Homo sapiens: one gene and its partner. The protein of the gene in region 1 interacts with the protein of each later gene in a pairwise test. Each region holds a gene or a part of one and is shown in the gene's direction. Other genes may lie near its edges. The genes, in order: FMOD and ZBTB32.

Region 1 (7,589 bases):
AATATCGCCATGGTCATCTTTCTGCTGACCTCTGTATATTCAATTCAAGAAATCTGGTTGGGTGGGTTTTCAGTCACACCCTCTTGCCCTCCACCTTCCCTGAGTTATCTGGGATCAGAGGCTGGATCATAAAAACAAGGGTTGTTGAGTCTTGTGGGGGATGAAGAGGAAGAAAAGGGTTGGTGGCCACAAGAACGTCACTGTGTCTTTGCTGGTGGGAACTTGAGTCAGAAGGGACTTCATTTCTCCCAGACAGGGTGGGTCCAGCATCAGAGGCAATGAGCTTTGCCTAGTGATTGTGGCTTAACCTGTACTTTTCTGGGTAGGGAGGAAATAGCAGTGGCCTGAACCCCTGGAAAGTCTAAAGGTTTTCCTGGCCTGGTTGGTGGTGGTTTTTCCACCCAGCATTGAGTACTGAAGACAGACATACTCTGTGGGGAGCCAAAAATACAATTCCTTTCATAACCCTTTACTGATTGCCTACTAAGTGCCAACGCATTGTGTGCCCAGCTGGGACAGGGGCTACAGAAATGCATGACATTGCCTTTCTCTTTAGTTTATTTTCAGTCTAGTGACTGCATAGTGCTGGCTAGACACCCCCTAGAAGATACTGGTGTCCTCCTTCACATGTGGACTCCCTCAGCAAGCAATCTGGTGGACATCAATATCTCATTCTTGGCTTCCCATGTTGAAGGCAAGCTCTGAGGGCCTAGATCCAGGAACCAGGCAAACAAAGCAGCAGTGGCCAAAATGGAGGTAGAAACCTCCACTAAAGGTTAGAGAAAAGAACTTTTGAACAGTGGGTGGTTCCCTGAAACTCTGCCTTCTGACCTGGTCCCAATCATCCCTTCCATCCTTCCTTCATCCCAGGCCTGCCTTGGAACAGGATGGATAGCTAAAGACCTGGTGCACATCTCACCACTTTAGAAATGGCCAAAAAACCCCATGGAGATACTGTCTTTTTGGTGGTGCCCGGTTGGGAAGAATCCAGTCACTATTTGGTTCCCAGACTTTAGTAACTTTCATTGTTAGTAAATGCAGAATTAGTCAGCATGCTGGAATTTAAAAAAATAAACATCTGTACCCAATGGTGAATCTGTCCAGGCTATCTAGGCTCATTTAAAAGTGTTTCCCAGGCTCGGTTGCCAAGATCAGTGTCCTCCACTGAAAGGTGACTGCTTTCTGGACTCAAAAATGACTAGAAAGTTATCTGTGCATTATTCATAAGCATTTTCACAGTAAGGCCATTCTGCTTCACTCATGAGGTCAGAGTTTGCTACATTCAGATCTGCTTTATTATAATCAGGCATTATACCGAAGCCTTCTTTGTGTCTCCAACACTTAGGATCATGCCCAACACATAGTAGATGCTCAAATTTATTAAACGGAAATGAAATATGGGTGGGATGAGGAAGAGAACCCCTATACCCCAGCCCCATCTCACTTTAAAACCCCCCTGCCCCCAGATTCAGGCAGATTGGTCAATCGTAATTAATTAAGCTTCATCTTAGTCGAGGCCAGCCTGACAGCAGGGTAGTCATTGCCCCTCCACTTTGCCAATCCTCTGTGCTAGAGTTAGAGAAAAGTGTGTGGGCTTTCAAGTCATGTAGACCAAGGTTCAGATCCTTGTTTTGCCACTTACCAGCTAGTCACTTTATATCACTAAAACCCTAATTCCTTGGCTGAAAGCAGGGTCAAAAATAAAAAAAAAAAAATCCTGACAGAATGAGGTGACATAACAGAGGCAGGTCGGAGCCACTGCTGTCACCATGACCCGCAGTAACCAGCATGAGCTTACTGGCTAGAAAAATAGGAAAAAGCAGAGTGACTCAGTTAAGGGAAAACGTCGAGATGACGGGCTTTCTGCTGCTGCGGCAAGCAGAGGAGCTCAGAGACCAAGCAGCAGGAGCAGAAGAAGGCAAAAGAGAAGAAGGAGGAACCCGAGTAGCTTTGTGGCTTCATGTCCAACCCTCCTGCCCTTCGCCTATGTGACTGGAGCCAGTCCCACCACCCTCACGTTTCCTCCTGCAGTGCCCGCAGGTCCCCGCACCCATGGCCTCCTTTTGCCCTGAGTCTGCAGCGGGTCCCTTTTGTGCTTCCTTCCCCTCACGTAGCCTCTCTCCCCCTGGCCCCTCCTGGAAGTGGCGGGTGGGAGGTTACCCCTTCCCAGTGTTTTTTTATTCCTGTGGGGCTCACCCCAAAGTATTAAAAGTAGCTTTGAAAAAAAAACACTAATTCCAATGCAAAATATCTACTGTTATCTTTGATAACATAAGTAAACCACCTAGTCTATAGTAGGTGGTCAGAAAAGGCTCATTCATTAGGTTTCATCTTTTTGAAATCTCTTCTTAAATTCTGAGAATGGGTCCCTGACAAGGCCCTTTCTGACAGCCCACACGCTAAGTCAAAAGCTCAAACCTATTGGAGAAACCAAAAGGACCATCTGCCTCGACACTTCTAAATTCTTCAAATTCAAGTCATCTCAGGGTTTCTCAGTTGGTATTTTTTTAAGATAAAGGTGTTTCTTTGATGTTGGCATAAGCCAGTTAACATACTTGAGGAGAGAACATTTAGGACACATGAGTTTATCTAAGCTATTGAGATTCTGTGTGACCCACATTATAATGGTTCTCAAATGTTTTCTTCCAGCCCCTAAACTCCAGATTCAGATTCATATGTCCAACGGTCTACGTGCATCTCCAGGGGAATGCCTAGCAGGCATCTCTAACAGCATATCCAAAATGTAACTTTGGTTTTCTACCCAACTCAGTCCCACGTCACCTTTCCCATGTCAAGAAATGTTACCACCACCTACCCAGTTGCTCAAACTAAAATTCTAGGAATCATCCTTGACTTTTCCTAACTCTGCAAGACTTGTCAGTTCTCTGTCTAAAATATAAGATCTTCTCTTCCATTGCACCAGTCCAATCTGCCATTACCTCTCCTTGAGGCTGGGTTGGAGCCTCCCTGCTTCCACCCTGGCCTCCCCTTCTCCATACAGCAGCCCCTCCTACATGCTTTTAAAATGTAAATTAGATCCCATGCAAATCAGATCCCATGGCTTCTCCTGCTTGAAACATGTTTTTTTTTTTAAACATTTAGAATAGGCCGGACCGGATGACGCACGCCTGTAATCCCAGCACTTTGGGGCACTGAGGTGGGTGGATCACCTGTGTTTAGGAGTTCAAGACCAGCCTGACCAATATGATGAAACCCTGTCTCTACTAAAAATACAAAAAATTAGCTGGGCGTGGTGGCGTGTGCCTGTAGTCCCAGCTACCCAGGAGGCTGAGGCAGGAGAACGGCTTGAACCTGGGAGGCGGAGGTTGCAGAAAGCAGAGATTGTGCCACTGCACTCCAGCCTGGGCGACACAGCGAGACTCCTTTTCGATCTCCTGACCTCATGATCCTCCTGCCTCGGCCTCCCAAAGTGCTGGGATTACAGGCATGAGCCACCACGCCCAGCTGAGACTCCTTCTCAAACAAACAAACAACAACAACAACAACAAAAACATTTAGAATAAAAACCAAATCACTTCCATCGCCCAAAAGTCCTTTCATGGTACAGCTCCTGCCCAGCTTTCTGATCTTGTCTTTCCCTGGCTGAGGAATTCTATGGCTGTGAAATGGGTAGGACACAGTGAACCTCAGCTATGTGCCAGGTCAGGAGCCTCCCACACATCACCTGATACAGTCCTTGCTACAACCCAGCAAGGTAAGTGTTATTAACTCTGAATTTGTTGTGAGCATTAAGTGGAAGTGGATGATGCTAGTGCATAAGCAGTGATCAGCAAATGCTGGAGTCCCTGCCTTTCCTTTTGTTCCAGTGGTGGAGGTGGGCAGGACCTGTAGCCTAGAAAAGTCTACACTGCTTAGGGATAGAACTGGAACCAGAGCCGGCTGTCCCTTGTCATTCATGCTCCCTTATCCACTAGCCTGATGACCTGTCTATAGGGGGAGCTGAGAAGCGCGAGTTCTCGCTCTCTGGAGGGACATGTGGGTTGCTGAAGGAGTTAAGATGTCTCTTACCAAACCCTGGCCCTCCCCATCCCTGCATCTGCCTTTGTGGCTTTAATGAGAAATCCAGGCGCTTCATAAGAGACTGTACAAATAACTTCTAGGGCGCCACTAACTCATTCAGCAGAAAGGGACCCAGGGCTGCCAATGTTTCAGGGAAGATAAGTGAGTGGAAAAAAGGTGGTTTTTATAGCGTCAGGCGGACCGAAGGATTTGCGTGGTTGAGCGTGAACTCCGCCCCTGCAGCAGAGCTGAAAAAAACCAGGATCCGGGTTCCTCAGCCCCTTTTCACAATATTTGATTAGGAATTTGGGGCGGGACCCTGGTCTGGCACAGGCACGCACACTCTCAGTAGACTCTTTCACTCCTCTCTCTCTTCCTCTCTCACACGTTCTCCAACCCAAGGAGGCCAGACAGAGGGACGTGGTCACTCTCTGAAAAGTTCAACTTGAGGTAAGTATAGTCGTTTTACTTCGGGTTTGTCCCTAGCAGTTCCTTAAAAGAAATAAAGGAAAAGTGGTAGGGGATAGGGGAGATGGGGAGGCAGGGAGGGTTCATTCCTCCTTCTCCACATCTGGGCCATGACCCCAGGGATGCTGGAGAGTGGCAGAGAGGGTGTATAAGGGAGGGGTTCCAGCCCTGTACCTTTCTCTTACAGTTCCTTTATGGGTGCTGAGGGGACCTCCAATTCTCAGGCATGAAAAAGTGAAGGACCCTCTGTCTAGGGAAGCTTCTTCCCTGCTACTCATAAATCCCATCATGCTGGGAGTGTGGGCATTTTGAAGGGTATTCCAAGACCTGGATGTCCCTGCAATCTCTCTTATAGAGGGGTTTGGTACATAAATGCTATTATGGGAGAGGGGGAAACTTTTGTGTAGAATGTGTGTGTGTGTGTGTGTGTGTGTGTGTTTGGAGTGGAAAGGAGAGAATAAAAAGAAGCATTGAGAACTGGCCATGTCCAGGGAGCTGTGGATTGGGGTGGGGATGCAATCCAGGTGAGGGGATGGCCTCTGGCTTGACCTTCTCCACTGATAGGAGGGAGAGATCTTTCTCTAGAGTGGAGAAATGAAAGAACAGCAGTAGCTCCTGAGTAAACTTCCCCCAGCTGATAGTGTGGCAGTCCTGGAAACTTTCGACCTTACAGAAACTCTGAGCACAGGAGGGCCTCTAGCATTATGGGAAACAGTGTAAGACTATGCAACCCTGAAGCAACATTGCTAAGAGATGGGATGGGGTAAGGAGAGGCATAAGCTCCCCATCAAACCCTTTCAGCACCCATGGCTCTAAGAAGAGGCTGAAGTGGGCAGGGTGCACAGCCCCTAGAAAGCTGAGTCTGAAGGGGAAGGTGGCTCTTGTCTGCCAAGGTGCCCAGTCTGAAAGAAGGAGAAACGGAGACAGAGGCTCACTGTGCCAGCCCTCCAGACAGCCACCTTGGTCCTGCAACAGCCCAGGGCTGTGCATGGAAAAATGCTCTGTTGGCAGTGGGCCGCTCCATTCGTCTTCTCTCCTGGCCAGAGCCAGGAACCAGCCAGCTTGCCCAGGCAGTGGGCAGTTGGGTCAGCTTCTCCAAAACACTGTGGCTCTTTGTCTGAGGCCTGAGGCTGCCTGTGGATGAGCCAGGGTGCCTGCTCCTCTGCAACCTAGGAACTGATGGGATGAAGTGGGCCCAAGGAAACTGTTTTGAGGGGACAGAGAGGTCTGGGATGGATGGTGGTCAGGAGGTAACTCTGTTGAGTGTCATAGTTGGGGTCTTTCCCATCAGTTCACTGGATCTGATGATGTTGGCTTTTATACTCCTTTCTTTCTTCTGTTTACAGTTGCCAACCCCAGTAGGCCCAACAGCAATGTGAGGGCTGTATGTGACTCTTCCAGGCCAAGAAAGATTCTAAGGTTTCTCTGTCCAAGGGTGACACTCAGGAAGATGCCCACTGCTCACAGGAGTATGTCATGCATTGGCTATAGGTAACCAGGGTAGGGTACCCAGGCCACCCCTAGTCTCTTACCTTCCATACCTTTAGTTTCCCTCTCAGATGACATCAGACCCACATTTCCTCTTCAGTCTGCCCTGTTCCTATCTCATTAGCACAACAGGTTCAAAAGCAACAGGTTTCCAGCAATGTGGGGACCTAGACACAGAGCCTGGTCATCTAGGTGTCATCGCTGGGAGCAGGTAGCTTGGGAAAGGAGAGGAGAATGTCAGGGTCCTACCTCAAGCTGCTTTCCCTTGAGCATACACAAGAGTTTCCAATCTCTAGCTATTCTTTTGGTGTCCCTCATTCATTTCTCTTGGCCCCACATGGCTCTTGCATGATGCCCATGGTGGAGCATGAGGAGTGCTAACACCTTACTAGGCACCATGGAAGAGAGAAGCAGATTAACTCAGACTTCACACACTGAGTACCTGCTTTAGAAGGCAAGTGCCACACCCAGTGCCAGGGTCCTCAGTCTGGAAAGGATTTGTAACTGCTGCATGAAGACCCTGTCCCAGCCAAGTTGCATGTGTAGCCACAAACTGCTAACCAGTGAGTTTCCTCACTCAGCAGACTGTTACAGATGATGGCACTTTGGAGGGCAACCTGAGCCTTGTGGTGGCTGCAGAGGGACCACACTCCTCCCCAAACACTCAAGACCAAAAACTCCCAGCCTGCCCAAGAGACCAAAAGATTTTCCAGATGTAGTTCAGCTCTTCCCCTTCGATGCGTCAAGCGGCTTCTGGAGGTCTCCCATCCTAGGGCTTTCTCCTTGGACTCTTAGAAAAATACTATTTCCCCGGAACATCCAAACTGGATTTGGGTTCAGATCTGAAGAGCATCCCACTACCATCCTTACCACCACACCACAAACACAGGGATTGCTGTGGGCTTTTCAGCTTTCCCACAGGACTTTCAGAGTGCTAGAGGCTCCTAAGAATCTGCCCCTCCAAAAAAAAAATGCAGCTGTTCCCATTCAAAGACATTCTGTCTGTGACTCTATGACCAGGGGAAAATGCACTTAGCTCACCCCAAATAGCCATGGTCCGGCTGGACCAAGTGCAGAACCAGACTGGGAGGAGGCACCGAAGAAATGAGAGCAAGGCTCCTGCTCTCAGATGTTTGACATGGAAGTCAGCTCTGCATAGCTCAAAGCCTAAGGCTTGCCTACTCTGCCTCACTGCCTCTGTGGAGTCTCACTCATGCTGGCTTGCTCTGTTCTCTCCCGCTTCTTGCAGAGACAAAATGCAGTGGACCTCCCTCCTGCTGCTGGCAGGGCTCTTCTCCCTCTCCCAGGCCCAGTATGAAGATGACCCTCATTGGTGGTTCCACTACCTCCGCAGCCAGCAGTCCACCTACTACGATCCCTATGACCCTTACCCGTATGAGACCTACGAGCCTTACCCCTATGGGGTGGATGAAGGGCCAGCCTACACCTACGGCTCTCCATCCCCTCCAGATCCCCGCGACTGCCCCCAGGAGTGCGACTGCCCACCCAACTTCCCCACGGCCATGTACTGTGACAATCGCAACCTCAAGTACCTGCCCTTCGTTCCCTCCCGCATGAAGTATGTGTACTTCCAGAACAACCAGATCACCTCC
Region 2 (7,467 bases), on another chromosome or scaffold:
GCACTGTGGTCACTGTAGTTGGCAGGATGGAGGCAGTGTATAAAAATGTTTAGGAGCTTAGGCTCTGGAGTCAGACTGCAACAGGCCTAGTTCAAATTCCAGCTCTGACAATTACTCCCAGTGAGATCTTAGGAAAATCAGTTTCTTCTCTGAACCTGTTTTTGTTTTTTTGTTTTGTTTTGTTTGAGACGGAGTCTTGCTCTGTTGCCCAGGCTTGAGTGCAGTGGCGCGATCTCGGCTCACTGCAACCTCTGCCAGGTTCAAGTGATTCTCCTGCCTCAGCCTCCCCAGTAGCTGGGATCACAGGCATGTGCCACCATGCCCAGCTAATTTTTTTTGTATTTTTAGTAGAGACAGGGTTTCACCATGTTGGCCAGGCTGGTCTCGAACTCCTGGCCTCAAAGGATCCACCCGCCTCATCCTCCCAAAGTGCTGGGATTACAGGCATGAGCCACTGTGCCAGGCCAAACCTCAGTTTTTGTATCTGTCAAATGAGAATAATAACAGTAAATATCCGATAGAGTTTACTATGAAGAGTCAATCTGATGATGTAGGTAAAGCACTTAAAACTGGTCTGGGGCCTGGCACAGTGGCTCGTGCCTGTAATCCCAGTACTTTGGGAGTCCAAAGCAGGAGGATCCCTTGAGCCCAGGAGTTTAAGTCCAGCCTGAGCAACATAGTGAGACCATCTCTACAAAATAATAATAATAAATAATAAATTAATTAATTAGTGATGCATGGTGTTGTGCACCTGTAGTCCCAGCGACTTGGGAGGCTAATGTGGGAGGATCCTTTGACCCCAGGAGGTCAAGGCTGCAGTGAGCCATGATCCTGCCACTGTGCTCTAGCCTGGGCAAGAGAGCAAGACCCTATCTCAAAAAAAAAAAAAAAAGCAAAGATATTATGAGACTGATTTTTTAAATACCTTTCTCTAGGCCAGGTGCAGTAGCTCACGCCTGTAATCCCAGCACTATGTGAGGCCGAGGCAGGAGGATCACTTGAAGTCAGGAGTTCGAGACCAGCCTGGCCAACATGGTGAAACCCCGTCTCTACTAAAAATACAAAAATTAGCCGGGCATGGTGGCAGGTGGCTGTAATCCCAGCTACTCGGGAGGCTGAGACAGGAGGATGGCTTGAACCCCGGGAGGTGGAGATTGCAGAGAGCTGAGATCGCACAACTGCACTCCAGCCTGGGCGACAGAGCAAGACTCTGTCTCAAAAATAAATAAATAAATAAATAAATAAATAAAATACCTTTTTGTACATGTCAGTCCATTTTCCCAAAACCAGGGCCAATGTGATCAGACCCCATCCCCATCTACAAAATCAATCCTACTTAATCATAGTGTAGCTTGAAGGTTGGGCTCTCACCACAGCAGGGTTCGAGTTCCAGCAATGCCCGTAACTGCTGCGGGACCCTAAATAAACGACTTCACCTCTTTGACCCTCAGAGGTTAACCTGGCATAGTAATCGCCTCCCTCACGGGGTTATTTAGGTTTCAACGAGTTGATGCACAAGCGTGGCACATGGAAAGGGCTCGGTAAACACGAGGTGCTATTACTCCCACCACAGTGCCAGTCCTTCTCCCTTTTTTACTTTATTTTTTATTTTTATTTTTTGAGATGGAGTCTTGCTCTGTCGCCCAGGCTGGAGCGTAGTGGCGCCATCTCCGCTCACTGTAACTTCCGCCTCTCGGGTTCAAGCAATTCACCTGCCTGGGCCTCCCGAGTAGCTGGGGTTACAGGCATCCCCCACCACGCCCGGCTAATTTTTGTATTTTTAGTAGAGACGGGGTTTCACCATATTGGTCAGGCTGGTCTCGAACTCCTGACCTCAGGTGATCTGCCCGCCTTAGCCTCCCAAAGTGCTGGGATTACAGGCGTGAGCCACCACGTCCGGCCCCTTCCCCCATTTTAGCGGTTTCGCTCCCTATCGGGGCCAGGGACGCCTCAGGCTGTCTCGGTCAGGACCTACAGCTCCGGTTGTTGTCCCAGGCTCTTCCGCGAGGTGCTCTCCTGTCTCCTGACCACCCCCATTCCTCCCCACTCCAGCTCCTCAGCGAGCGGCTGCGAAGGACGCGCACAACAACACTCCGCGCAGCGGGAAGGTACCGAACTCGCATCGCAGCCTGAAACTGCTCAACTAAGCTCCCGCCCCGCTGCTCTCTGGTCAATCTAAAGCGAAGACGAGCCTTAGGGCCAATCAGAAGCGACAGCGGTGGAGTCATGCCCGCCTGCTTGAGGCGCCCTGGCGTCTCATTGGCTATGCTTGAGAACGAATCCCAGGCTAAGCCACTTAGAAAGGAGCGGAGCCAGCCAATCAGCGGTGCAACCGCCGCGGGGGCCGGGCCAGAAGCCCCGCAGACAAGCACCTCGGGAGACTGGCGAGGGGCGAGCTCGCAGCTTGTTAGCCCCGAAGCCCTGCCCAGGGGGAAACCCTGCTGGAGGGAGTCTAACCCCCGGGCCAGTTAATGTTGGGGCAGCGCAATCGGCCGTTCCCTCTGCGGTATGGTTGGAGGTGGGAGTGCTGACACGTCCGCGCGCAGTTACTCCTGGCTGAGCATACAGTCGAGGTGGCAGTGGGAATTGGAAGTGCAAGTGTCACGCTGCCAATCACGGGGCAAGGCACTGCCCCCCTCTTGTGTCTTTCCTGTCCCTGTACACTTCCAGGCTTCCAGGCGAGGCAGAGTGAGCTGTGCCAGCAATCGTGGTGGAGTGGGACAAGAGAGAAAAGGGAGCTGTTCACAGGCACCGAAGCCTGGCTGGCTCTTTTTTTTTTTGAGACGCCGTCTCGCTCTGTCTCCCAGGCTGGAGTGCAGTGGCGCGATATAGGCTCCCTGCAATCTCCGCCTCCCGGGGTTCAAGCGATTCCCCTGCCTCAGCCTGCCGAGTAGCTGGAATTACAGGCGCCCGCCACCACGCTCAGCTAATTTTTGTATTTTTAGTAGAGACGGGGTTTCACCATGTTGGTCATGCTGATCTCGAACTCCTGACCCCAGGTGATCCGCCCTCCTCGGCCTCCCAAAGTGCTGGGTTTTCAGGCGTGAGCCACCGTGCCCTGCCTGGCTGGCTCTTTTATTTTATTTTTATTTATTTATTAGAGACAGGGCCTCACTGTGTCGCCCAGGCTGCAGTGCAGTGGTGTGATCATAGCTCACTGCAGCCTCGACCTCCTGGGCTCAAGCGATCCTACTACCACCTGGACCTCTCAAAGCCCTGGGATTACGGGCATGAGCCACCGTGCCTGGCCTTGGCTTGCTCTTACGGGCCTCCCAGCCAATCAGGTGTGGCGGCAGCCTACACACCCCCTACACACCTCACAGATGGTAAAGGGTTGAGAGAAAGGTGACAGGGTTTGCAAATGGGAGCTACTTAGGGTGGCAAAATAGAAGCAAGAAAGGCAGGTCAGGCACGGTGTCTCACGGCTGTAGTTCCAGAATTTTGGGAGGCCCAGGTGGAAGGATTGCTTGAGCCCAGGAGTTCGAGGCTGCAGTGAGCTATGATTGCACCATTGCACCCCAGCACCGGCAACAGAGGGAGACCCCGTTCATAAAATAAAAATGAAATAATAATTTTTTAAAAAGCCGGGCGTGGTGGCTCACGCCTGTAATCCCAGCACTTTGGGAGGCCGAGGCGAGTGGATCACGAGGTCAGGAGATCGAGACCATCCTGGCTAACATGGTGAAACCCCATCTCTACTAAATGTACAAAAAATTAGCCGGGCGTGATGGCGGGCGCCTGTAGTCCCAGCTACTTGGGAGGCTAAGGCAGGAGAATGGTGTGAGCCCGGGAGTCGGAGCTTGCAGTGAGCAGAGATCGCGCCACTGCACTCCAGCCTGGGCGACAGAGCGAGACTCTGTCTCAAAAAAAAAAAAAAAAAAAAGGACAGTAGTACTCCTGAGCACTTGCTGAGGGAGCCTCCAGGGCTGTTCAGGTGAAGGAGAATCAGGGTCCAGTCTCTTCGTGGAGAGAGTGGGAAAAGGCAGACTCCACAGCAGATCAACGCTGGGGCCCGGCTGGAAATCAATGAAATCTCAGCCTAAGAGGCCTGAAGCCTATGGACCAATGAGACTCAAGGCTCTGCCCCTTCACAGCCAATCAGCTGCGGGTCCGAGGCAGACGCGCGGGAGTGGCGCTGTCCTAGGTGCCTCCCAGGCTGCCCAGCGTGCTCAGCTGGCCTGAGCGGGAGAATGCGGCCCGCGCTGCAGCCAATCAGCGTCCGCCTCAGGATCCAGGGGTGACCACGTGCGGGAGCGTTGCGTCCCTGGCCTCGCTCCATTCCCCACTTTTAACGGTCACTCGGCCTTAAGCCGTCCTGGGTGTATGTGAGGCTGAAAGGGAAGGAGGAACAGGGTCTGGGCCGGTGAGTGCCATAGTTTTTCTTACTTTACTTTCTTGGGCTTGGGCCCGGCCCAGGCAAATCTGGGGTATGGGGGCTTGACTGGACCTCGTTGATGATTGGGAAGTGCGGGTTGAGGGCTTTAGCCCTTGGGGCTTTCCTCTGCCTTTGAGAGGCTGGAAATGCAGCCTCCTGGCCACCTTTAGGCCTAGGTTTGGCAGAGGCTAAGCCAGCTTGCTCTCTGAGTTGGTCCACGGCCCCCGAGGCCAGCCTGAGTAGGAAGGGTGTTGTGGGGAAGTTGGAGGTCCTTAACTCTGCATGAGGTATGGCCTCCGGACAATGAGAGCTTATCAAGGGTCTCTGGACTGAGCCTGGATCCGGTGACTGAAAGGAGAGGCCTGTGGATCTCCAAAGGTTATGCAGGGGCTGGGCGCGGTGGCTCACGCCTGTAATCCCAGCACTTTGGGAGGCTGAGGCAGGTGGATCATTTGAGGTCAGGAGTTTGAGACCAGCCTGGCCAACATGGAGAAACCCTGTCTCTACGGGGTTTCTAAAAAAAATTACCTGGGCGTGGTGGCACACGTCCGTAATCCCAGCTACTCAGAAAGCTGAGGCAGGAGAATCGCTTGAACTCATTGAACTCAGGAGATGAACGTTGCAGTGAGCTGAGATCACGCCATTGCACTCCAGCCTGGGCGACAGAATGAGACCCTGTCTCAAGAAAAAAAATGAAAAGAAAAAAAAAGTTATGTAGGAAGTCACTGGCCAAGAGATGAAACTAGTGTGCACATGAAGGTTTCCTGGGGTCTTTGGAGCCAGCCTGGGCTGGGAGTGAATGTTCTGGACTCCAGGTTGAGATGTTCTTGGCAGATTTCCCAGTATGGAGTCCAGGTTGGATGATGTGGCCAAGAGGTTAGGCCAGTAATCCTCTGGAGATTCTAGGGAGAAGGATTCTGAATCCCAGCCGAGCTGTTTGCGCTGGATGAAGTATTATTGCCTTGTGGTGGCTCTGTACAGAACTGGGATTGGGTGGCCAGGCGTGGTGGCTCACACCTGTAATCCCAGCACTTTGGGAGGCTGAGGTGGGTGGATCACCAGGTCAGGAGCTCGAGACCAGCCTGACCAACATGGTGAAACCCTGTCTCTACTAAAAATACAAAAATTAGCCAGGTGTGGTGGCAGGTGCCTGTAATCCCAGCTACTCAGGAGTCTGAGGCAGGAGAATCCCTTGAACCCACGAGGCGGAGGTTGCAGTGAGCAGAGATCGCACCACTGCACTCCAGCCTGGGCAACAGAGCAATGCTCTGTCTCAAAAAAAAAAAATTAATTAAAAAAAAAAAAAAGCAGGGCCAGGCGTGGGGGCTCACATCTATAATCCCAGCACTTTGAGAGGCCAAGGCGGGCGGATTACCTGAGGTCAGAAGTTTGAGACCAGCATGACCAACATGGAGAAACCCCATCTCTACTAAAAATACAAAATTAGCTGGGCGTGGTGGCACATGCCTGTAATCCCAGCTACTAGGGAGGCTGAGGCAGGAGAATCGCTTGTACCTGGGAGGCGGAGGTTGCGGTGAGCCGAGATCGTGCCATTGCACTCCAGCCTGGGCAACAAGAGCGAAACTCCATCTCAAAAAAAAAAAAAAAACTGGAATTGGGTCATGTCTGGAGCTTTTCATTCTCCCTGTCCCACTCTTTCCCATGCCTGTTCTGATAATTCCTAGAAGATGAAGATATCAGGCTGTAGGTGCGGGGCAGGTGCATGGGGAGGATGAACATCGTAGTGGAGCACAGGAAGAGGTGTGTGAGATATTCTCCTCTTTAGGAAATCACCCAGGTTTTTGGCAGGGCGTGGTGGCTCACACCTGTAATCCTAGCACTTTGGGAGGCCGAGGCAGGTGGATCACCTGAGGTCAGGAGTTCAAGACCAGCCTGGCCAACGTGGTGAAACCCCATCTCTACTAAAAATGCAAAAAATTAGCCGGGCATGGTAGATGCCTGTAATCCCAGCTACTTAGGAGCCTGAGGTAGGAGAATCACTTGAACCCAGGAGGCAGAGGTTGCAGTGAGCCGAGATCGCGCCACTGCACTCCAGCCTGGGCAACAAGGGCAAAACTCTGTCTCAAAAATAAATAAGTAAATAACATAAAGGAAATCACCCAGGTTGTCTTTACTGATGATCTTTTTTATACTCATGGGGCAGGGTGTTGATACCTAGTTTCATTCAGCTGTTCAGTGGTATTTATGCTTTCGGAGTGCCTTCAGTACACCCAGAGTTCTTTAACCAGGGGTGAGGGTGCAAGGAGTGGCTTATGAGTGGACTTCAAGGAAGTCTAACCCCGAAACCAGTTAATATTGGGGCAGCTCAATTGGCCATTCCCTCTATGGTGTGGTGGGGGCCCGGGGTGCTGGCACATGAAGTGTGCAGTTAATCCCAGCTCGGCAGACAGCCACCAAGCATGATGGCACATGCCTGTAATCCCAGCTACTCAGGAGGCTGAGATAGGGGGATGACTTGAGCCCAGGATGTCAAGACTGCAGTGAGCCATGATTGTGCCACTGCACTCCAGGCTGGGTGACAGAGCAAGACTGTGTCTCTAAAAAAAAAAAAAAAAAAAAAGAACAATTAATGGTATGCATGTATATTATGAGGAGGGGAGGGTAAAGAATAAGCTAGACGATAGTTAACCTCTCCAGCCATGAGGCTCAGAGTAATCTGTCAATCTCTTGTCATGCATTCATATGCCAAGTGGTATAAGTGTCTACCATTTTCTTTTTTTTTTTTTTTTTCGAGATGGAGTCTTAGCTCTGTTACCAGGCTGGAGTGCAGTGGTGTGATCTTGGCTCACTGCAACCTCCGCCTCCCGGGTTTAAGCAATTCTCCTGCCTCAGCCTCCCAAGTAGCTGGGATTACAGGCACGTGCCACCACGCCCAGCTAATTTTTGTATTTTTAGTAGAGACGGCATTTCACCATGTTGGCCAGGACGGTCTCTATCTCTTCACCTTGTGATCCGCCCACCTCGGCCTCCCAAAGTGCTGGGATTACAGGCGTGAGCCACCGCACCCGGCCTGTGTCTACCATTTTCTAATGTCAACAATTGGTCCCAGGCTGGGTGGCTCACACTTGTAA

Evidence for each region.
Region 2: the proteins of FMOD (region 1) and ZBTB32 interact in a two-hybrid assay, tested with the Homo sapiens proteins (one study listed by BioGRID).

What each region holds. Positions count from the first base shown.
Region 1 is NC_000001.11:203,347,914-203,355,502, reverse strand, and holds the start of FMOD (fibromodulin precursor), read left to right. Parts: upstream 1-4,380; 5' UTR 4,381-4,470; intron 4,471-6,246; exon of another isoform or gene 6,247-6,257; intron 6,258-7,225; 5' UTR 7,226-7,232; coding exon 7,233-7,589. UniProt on the Homo sapiens protein: Affects the rate of fibrils formation. May have a primary role in collagen fibrillogenesis.
Region 2 is NC_000019.10:35,700,261-35,707,727, forward strand, and holds the start of ZBTB32 (zinc finger and BTB domain-containing protein 32), read left to right. Parts: upstream 1-4,297; 5' UTR 4,298-4,363; intron 4,364-7,467. UniProt on the Homo sapiens protein: DNA-binding protein that binds to the to a 5'-TGTACAGTGT-3' core sequence. May function as a transcriptional transactivator and transcriptional repressor. Probably exerts its repressor effect by preventing GATA3 from binding to DNA.